3 separate regions of the Homo sapiens genome follow, and regions 1 and 2 are each linked to region 3. Evidence: fine-mapped expression QTL. A gene starts in region 3. Each other region holds a variant in brackets. All regions are shown on one strand. Distances are from middle to middle.

The links. PIP is the estimated chance that this variant, and not a neighbour inherited with it, causes the effect. A credible set is the group of variants that fine-mapping cannot tell apart.
Region 1: its variant is the best candidate, but not a certain one, in a credible set for the expression of ADH5 in whole blood (INTERVAL, PIP 0.53).
Region 2: its variant is the best candidate, but not a certain one, in a credible set for the expression of ADH5 in aorta (GTEx, PIP 0.57).

The regions. Positions count from the first base shown.
Region 1 is chr4:99,064,995-99,067,638 of GRCh38, forward strand. No RefSeq gene overlaps it. Among named protein-coding and RNA genes, the nearest start is that of ADH5, 22 kb to the right of the region's middle. The variant A/G (reference allele first, on the strand shown) is at 1,347.
Region 2 is chr4:99,413,719-99,416,218 of GRCh38, forward strand. It overlaps ADH7 (alcohol dehydrogenase 7 (class IV), mu or sigma polypeptide), which reads right to left. Exons shown (of 9, transcript NM_000673.7): 8 at 1,760-1,898. Among named protein-coding and RNA genes, the nearest start is that of ADH7, 20 kb to the right of the region's middle. The variant T/C (reference allele first, on the strand shown) is at 1,108.
Region 3 is chr4:99,087,495-99,090,312 of GRCh38, forward strand. ADH5 (alcohol dehydrogenase 5 (class III), chi polypeptide) reads right to left here and starts at 1,294. Exons shown (of 9, transcript NM_000671.4): 1 at 1,195-1,294. The coding sequence starts at 1,206. LOC100507053 (a long non-coding RNA gene) reads left to right here and starts at 1,363. Exons shown (of 10, transcript NR_037884.1): 1 at 1,363-1,790. RefSeq lists a promoter at 1,239-2,492 and a silencer at 1,277-1,326.

The DNA of each region.
Region 1 (2,644 bases), 23 kb before region 3:
ACAGATGTAAAATTGTTTCAAAATTACTACACTAAAATCACTGCCAACAATAAAGTACACTTTCTTTATGATTCTTTTTTTCTTAGAACATATCATTGAAGTAATTTAGATCTTATTCTGAATTTCATAAACCATGGGCTACTTTAAGAATGAATGCAGTGAATCTCGGGGGCAAAAAATACAGTAGAGGTGGGGAGGGATATATTAGTGGTCTGGCAGTTAGAAATGCTGGAACTGTTTGAGACAGTGTAGTAAGATTCTGTCTACATTTGATAGTGTTTAACTTTTACCAAGCTTTCCAGCTGCAAGAGGAGCAAATCATACCACTTGTAAATTACACCACACTTGTGGCAGTGTCGCTCATTTTCCAACTCCTTTATTTATTTATTTATTTTTATTTTTTTCTTTTTTTATTATACTTTAAGTTCTAGGGTACATGTGCACAACGTGCAGGTTTGTTACGTATACATGTGCCACGTTGGTGTGCTGCACCCATTAACTCGTCATTTACATTAGGTATATCTCCTAATGCTATCCCTCCCCCCTCCTCCCACCCCACGACAGGCCCCAGTGTATGATGTTCCCCTTCCTGTGTCCAAGTGTTCTCATTGTTCAATTCCCACCTGTAAGTGAGAACATGTGGTGTTTGGTTTTTTGCCCTTGCGATAGTTTCCTGAGAATGATGGTTTCCAGCTTCATCCATGTCCCTACAAAGGACATGAACTCATCCTTTTTTATGGCTGCATAGTATTCCATGGTGTATATGTGCCACATTTTCTTAATCCAGTCTATCACTGATGGACATTTGGGTTGGTTCCAAGTCTTTGCTATTGTGAATAGTGCCACAATAAACATATGTGTGCATGTGTCTTTATAGCAGCATGATTTATAATCCTTTGGGTATATACCCATTAATGGGATGGCTGGGTCCAATGGTATTTCTAGTTCTAGATCCTTGAGGAATTGCCACACCGTTTTCCACAATGGTTGAACTAGTTTACAGTCCCACCAACAGTGTAAAAGTGTTCCTATTTCTTGACATCCTCTCCAGCATCTGTTGTTTCCTGACTTTTTAGTGATTGCTATTCTAACTGGTGTGAGATGGTATCTCATTGTGGTATTGATTTGCATTTCTCTGATGGCCAGTGATGATGAGCATTTTTTCATGTGTCTGTTGGCTGCATAAATGTCTTGAGAAGTGTCTGTTCATATCCTTCGCCCACTTTTTGATGGGGCCAACTCCTTTATGTTAGAACATAACATTTAGACATTCATGTTTTAGGAACAAACTGTTTCATAACATAGGCTGCATTAGGCTAAAACCTATAAAAGTTGTGTTTTGTTCT[A/G]TTTTAAAAATGGACACCTAAGGAAAGGTTAGCTTAGCACACAGTCTGTGTATGGAAACTCTGGCCCTTATGGCAACCTTCTCTCATCTTCCTTTTGGTGCTAAGTAGGAAAAAGAAAAATAGTCTGCATTTATTTGGGTGTTTTGCAAGATGAAGCAGGAATAAGGTGGCCCTGGCTACGTGTTTGCTGCTTTTCATTTTGGGGACTGTGGGTGAGCAACAATAGAACTGTGTATATGGTGATTCTGGTTATTTTTGAAAAAAGGTCAACACTGGTATTTTACTAGAATACTCCAAAAAGTTAAAATATGGAGCACTCAAGAAGGACTTCCTATAAAAATTTTCACTTATCACAATTGTGCTGTTAGTCGTTCACAGTATTTTAATAGTTTTTTGTTGTTGTTGTTGTTGTTGTTCCTCAGGCTGGAGGCAGTGGCATGATCATGGCTAACTGCAGCCTTGACCTCCTGGGCTCAAGCAGTTCTCCCACCTCAGCTTGCCACGTAACTAGGACTACAAGCATGTTCCAACACACCTGATTATTATTATTTTTCTATAGAGACAGGGTCTATGTTGCCCAGGCTGGTCTTGAACTCCTGGCCTCAAGTGATCCTCCCACTTCAGCCTCCCACAGTGCTTGGATTACAGGTGTAAGCCACCACACCCAGCCAATTTCTACAATTTTTAAATTGATTCTGTGGCTAGGAGAACAAATCACCACACTTCTCTGTGGCAATCTCCTATTTGTGCAGTGATATGACAACTACCAACTGTTTTATTCTATACAGAATGTGACTGGCTATGAAGCAGATTTGCTTTGTTTCAGTAGTTGGGTCAGAGATCACCAGACAATTCCAGATAGAATTTTTTAAACTTAAATCTGAATTTGAGCCCTGGATGATTCTGAGGAAACAATGCCAAGGATAAGAACATTTAATATTAACATGTAGATTACAGAAAGAGATCAACATATTTTAAAGCGTGTTCTGCTGCTTTATCTTGCTTAACATATCTCGATATTTTTGGCAGTCAAGAGTACATGTTTAAACTGGAGGTAATTCCATGGTGGGTTATCACTCTTTTCTTGAAAGGAGCATGTGCATATTTCTCTTATACATAAGGAATTCTGATATGTCCAGTTTGATAAAAATCAATCTGCTTAAGAGCCCATTACGCTGCTTTGTCACCATAATGTTCCACCGAAGGAAATCTTGTATAATAGAGGACTTTGCTCATCTTGTTCACTTGGTAGTTGTTCCTTAAAGACACAATTACCTTGGTATAGTTCTATGCAATTA
Region 2 (2,500 bases), 330 kb after region 3:
GTGGAAAACCTATTATCTCACTACCATGTCCATGTCAGAAATGATTAGACTGAATTAAAGCAATGAGCGTGGGCAATGAGATGAGGGATTCTGAAGGAGAAATCAAGGGTTGCATCATCAAGGCTTAGAATTGGTTTGTATGTGGTAGGCAAGAGTGAAAAAGAAGTCAGACATGATGCTATGGCTTCTCATCTATAAAAGAGGAACGCATAATATAATGACTGAGATAAAAATTACTGGCGAAAAAATATTTCCAAGTGGGACATTCAAATAGAGCTGTGCAGGAAGTAGGTGGAAATTGAAGAGTTTAGGTTTACAAATGTTAGTTTGGATGTCCCTGCTTTAAGGTGATATTTGAAGCAAAATTCCTGAAAGCAGAATTTATGTTTCTTTGGAAAACAAATAGTAATTATTTTCCAAGCAGGCCATACTAAGCTGTTAGTTTTGCTTATCTGAGTAAAGTAGTACTGAGTGGTTCTGACAGTTTTTCTTACAAAATCCCATTGTTTACTTGCTTAAAAAAATGTATGTTCATAATATGATGATCCTGTAGGCTAGACCAAATGTGGAGACAAGACACAACATTGAAAAATCTCTCAGGTAAAAAAAAAAATTAGTAAAAATTTGGATCTCAATATACAGTTCCTTTTACTAATGAAATCCACGTCCTTGGCACATAGTGGAAGCTCAATAATTATTTATAGGCCCAATGAGTGAAAGTCATTTCATCTTGTAGACAGGCTTTTTGATTGCTGTTTGAGACCTCCATGAGGTAGATGTTGTAGATAAAATTTGCATGAATTCATACTTGACCTCTATCCTTGCCCAACCCTCAGAAGCAACAAGAGTAGTAATCATCACACCCATGTTTACCCAAAGCTTGCCAAGCTCTGTCAGAGAAGTTTGTTATATGGTCAAAAGAGCACAAGTTTTGCAATTAGTTTATATCCTGGCACTACCCCAGGAGGTTTGACCAGTTATTTATTTGCTTTCACAACCTTGGTCTTCATCTAAAAATGGTAAAAATAATACCTGGCTTACAGGGATCTGAATAATGCACATTTGAGAAAGCACTTTGAAAACTGTAAAATAAGGAAATTTTGTGGC[T/C]TACTTGAAATAAATAGCAGCTTTATGATGAAATAAAAATAGCCACAATGAAATCAACTAGGTAAACAAAATCCAAAAGATTTTAAAAAATTGATTAATATAGTACAATGGCATACTAAGTTGGTGATATGGTTAGACTTTGTGTCCCCACCCAAATCTCATCTTGAATTATAATCCCTATAATCCCTACATGTCAAGGGAGAGACCAGGTGGAGGTAATTGAATCATGGGGCAGTTTCCCTCATGCTGTTCTCATGATAGTGAGTGAGTTTTCACAAGATCTGATGGTTTTGTAAGGGGCTCTTCCCGCTTTGCTCGACACTTCTCCTTCCTGCAGCCTGTGAAGAAGGTGCCTTGCTTCCTCTTTGCCTTCCACCATGATTATAAGTTTCCTGAAGCCCCCAGCCATGCTGAACTGTGAGTCAATTGAATCTGTTTGCTTTATAAATGACCCAGTCTCGGGCAGTTTTTTTTTTTTATAGTAGTATGAAAATACACTAATGCAGTGGGTAAAGAGAAGTAATTAGCTGTATCAATCTGGCTAGATTAAATAATTAGAAATAAAATATGAAGAAAACAGGCACATTTATAAGTACTAAATTTTAAAAGTAGCCTGTGGAGAAGAGACAAGATCATCATAAGAAACAGTTACCTTTGTCCTGAATTGAGCAGCTCAAATCCTTCACTGATTTTTTTAAATGGTAAAACATGAGTTATCAACTGGTCCAGGTCAAATTTCTTTGCCAGGAACTCAGTCACTAGTTTTGGGACATCATCTCTGCTTTTCAAACCTGCAAATAAGCACACATTTTCTCTTTAGACATTACTAAATAATCCTTATCTTTTATTATGTTATATTTATTCCTTCTCTTTCCTGCACTATGACTTTCCCTGTGTTAGATCATTCCCAGCAGTGTACAAATAAGCTGTATTTGTCCCAGCATAAGAAACAAAAGTTATGCAGCCATAAAAAAGAATGAGTTCATGTCCTTTGCAGGGACATGGATGAAGCTGGAAACCATCATTCTCAGCAAACTAACACAGGAACAAAAAACCAAACACCGCACGTTCTCACTCGTAAGTGGGAGTTGAACAATGAGAACACATGGACACAGGGAGGGGAATGACACATACCAGGGCCTGTCGGTGGGTGGCAGGCAAGGGGAGGGAGAGCATTAAGACAAATACCTAATGCATGCGGGGCTTAAAACCTAGATGATGGGTTGATGGGTGCAGCAAACCACCATGGCACTTGTATTCCAACGTAACGAACCTGCACGTTCTGCACATGTATCCCAGAACTTAAAGTAAAATAAAAATTAAATTAAATTAAAAAGAAACAAAGGTTAAAAAAACTCTTCTGATACCCACATCTCCTTCCAGTCACCCCATA
Region 3 (2,818 bases):
CAAAGAATCAGACACTGCATTAGAACCTTTTTCATTTCAATGTGCCATAAATTTCAACTCCACAAGTCAGATTCAGAATACTAACAATTAAGTTATGCAACATAGGAATCCAAAGAAACAAGAATACTAAATTTGATGGCCTGCTCCCCTTTAAAAAATGTCTTAATGGAGCCTAACCTTTTCCTTTTACTGACAATTCTAAGCAAAACAAAGCCCCACTCTAAATCCGCGGGAAATGGCCCTACTTCAACATTTGAACTATAGTAACAATTATAATCTTTCACCTTCTCTGAATAAAGACACTCAGTAATAAGGAAAAGCAACTACCAGTTTAAGTCTGAAAGACTGTTTAGAGTTTATTTCTTTCAAACTCCAATATGTTTAAGGCCATTTGTCTTACTAGAAAATGTCCAAAATTGCAAAACATTAAAATAATCAGCAACTTTAGACTGAGTATGTTATTCGTAATTTCTGCCTTTCTTTACTGTCTAATTTGTATTTTATGAATTTGTCATAGAGGAGCAGACCTGGGTCGGAATCCCAGCTCGCCATCGTTGGTGTGACCAAGCACAACCAACCTCAAACCTCAGTTTTTGGTAAGATGGGGATAACACCTCGCAGAGGTGTTTGTTACGTGAGGACTAGAGGGAATATAAATCTCTTGGTATTTAAGTGCTCGAAAATGTTTCTGAAAGGGACGTAGGGGTCTTTCCAAAATACACTCCTTGGAGGCACAATAATTAAGGCGTAGGCTCAATTATGCAACACAAGCAACCTAGGAGTTAGAAGCACGGGATCTGGCTGCAGCTCTGCCAAGTATGCAAGCTGCAAGAATGACCCAGAGCGAGTTACTTAATTTCGTGTAAGAAGCAATGCGTGGCCGCTCCTAAGCCATTTCCACTGGGATACCGACCTGACCAGCCCCTGCCCCCCACTCTCCGGCTCTCCCACCCCCCCACCCCGTTCCGACTGTCCCAGAAGCAGCAAAGAAAGCTGCTTCCCAACTGAAGAGCCGAGACAAAGCTTCCTTCTCTTTCTGCCCCTCTGAGCCGCTCGCTGGGGGCCCAGTTTCAGAACCAAGAGCCAGATCCCGTCTTGGGCGCCGAGCCTCGCGCGCCCCCGAGGATAGCAGCCTAGTCCCATGCCATGCACTCCCTCCCTTGGACTCAGGGCCCTCCGCTCAACGGGCCCTACCTCGTTCGCCATGTTCACGGATTCTGGTCGGCGCGGGGGGCTGACATCCGGGGTGGGCCGCGCAGCGACGGAGGCATGGGCGTGGCGAGCGCCTAGCGAGGGGGGCGGGGCGTGGGGGGGGCTTGCAATGGCTCCAACCGGAAGGGCGGTGCTCGAGCTGTGGTGCGTGCCGCTAAGTTGTGCGTTCCAGGGTGCACTCGCCGGCGAGGCTGCACGGCGCCGGTTTCATTGCTAAAATCCGACGGACTTGTTGCAGAACTCGTTTTTTTTGTCGGGAAAGGGCTTCCCCGTGTAACTTTACAGCAGTTATCGTAGATAAGACTTGCAAATTACAGATGTGGACGGTGAGGGAACGGGAATTTCACTGAAAGCGCCTGAGAACCAGTAAGAGACCTGCAACAGCTTTGTGCTCCACTGGCGAATGCTTCCTCCCCTAATACACATTATGTGTGCTTGGAGACACAAGGAGTAAGATACAGCCCCTCAAGGGACTCGTCATAGGGAGAGGACACAGCTTTGGGAATAAAGGGGCCACAAAGGAGGAGAGAGGAGTTTGCTGAAACTTCCCAAGCTCCCATTCCAGCAGTTCCTGAAGGGTAGGTAGGATTTTGGGGAGACAGTAGAACGTGGGCAGAGAACTTTGGAAGGAGGAGATGAGGAGAACAAAAAGTCTCCTGATCCTGGACAGTTTTTTGTGTTAAGAGTGGGCCAGAGTGTAGAGAGAGAGAATGTAGTATTTGTCGGTTTACTCTTTCTTTGTTTGTTTGAGACGGAGTCTCGCACTGTCGCCCAGGCTGGAGTGCAGTGGCGCGATCTCGGGTCACTGCAACCTCCGCCTCCTAGGTTCAAGTGATTCTCGTGCCTCAGCCTCCTGAGTAGTTGGGATCACAGGCACACGCCACCACGCTGGCTCAATTTTGTATTTTTAGTAGAGATTGGGAGTGGGGGCAGGGGGTTGGTCTCACCATGTATGCCAGTCTGGTCTTGAACTCCTAACCTCAAGTGATTCACCCACCTCAGCCTCCCAAAGTGCTGGGATTACGGGCATGAGCCACCGCACCTGGCCTGCCAGTTTACTCTTAAACTCTGTTGTAAACGCTGAATTTTGTTAAAATAGCTCTGTCAGACACACTGCTCTTTTCTGTCTTTCAGTCTTTTTCTTGGCTCTTTTCCGGGTACATATGGTAAGATTGTCCAAAGTCTTTCCGTCCTTTCACTCCACTCTCTCACTCACACTTTGGCTTTTAACGTCTATTTATGGAAAGATGACTACCAGATTATTATCTCCAATCAGGATGGCTCCCCTAAACTCCAGACTTGGACATGTAACTGCCTACTGGATTTCTGTCTCCATTAGGATATCTCACAATCGAATGCAACTCCTAAAACTCCTATTAATATTTTCTCCTTATAGGGACTCTTTCCTCTGTGTGTTGACACTCTCCACATACTTACCCTAGCCAGAAACATGAGAGTCACAACTTCTCCCTCTCCCTCGGTCCCTGCATTCAGTTTGTCACCAAGCCCTAAATATCTCTCTGGTCTTGTGCCTCTCTCTCCCCACTGCTGCTGTATTAGTTCAGGCTTTCATAATTTCTTACAGGATTACTGAAAGAGCCTCCCA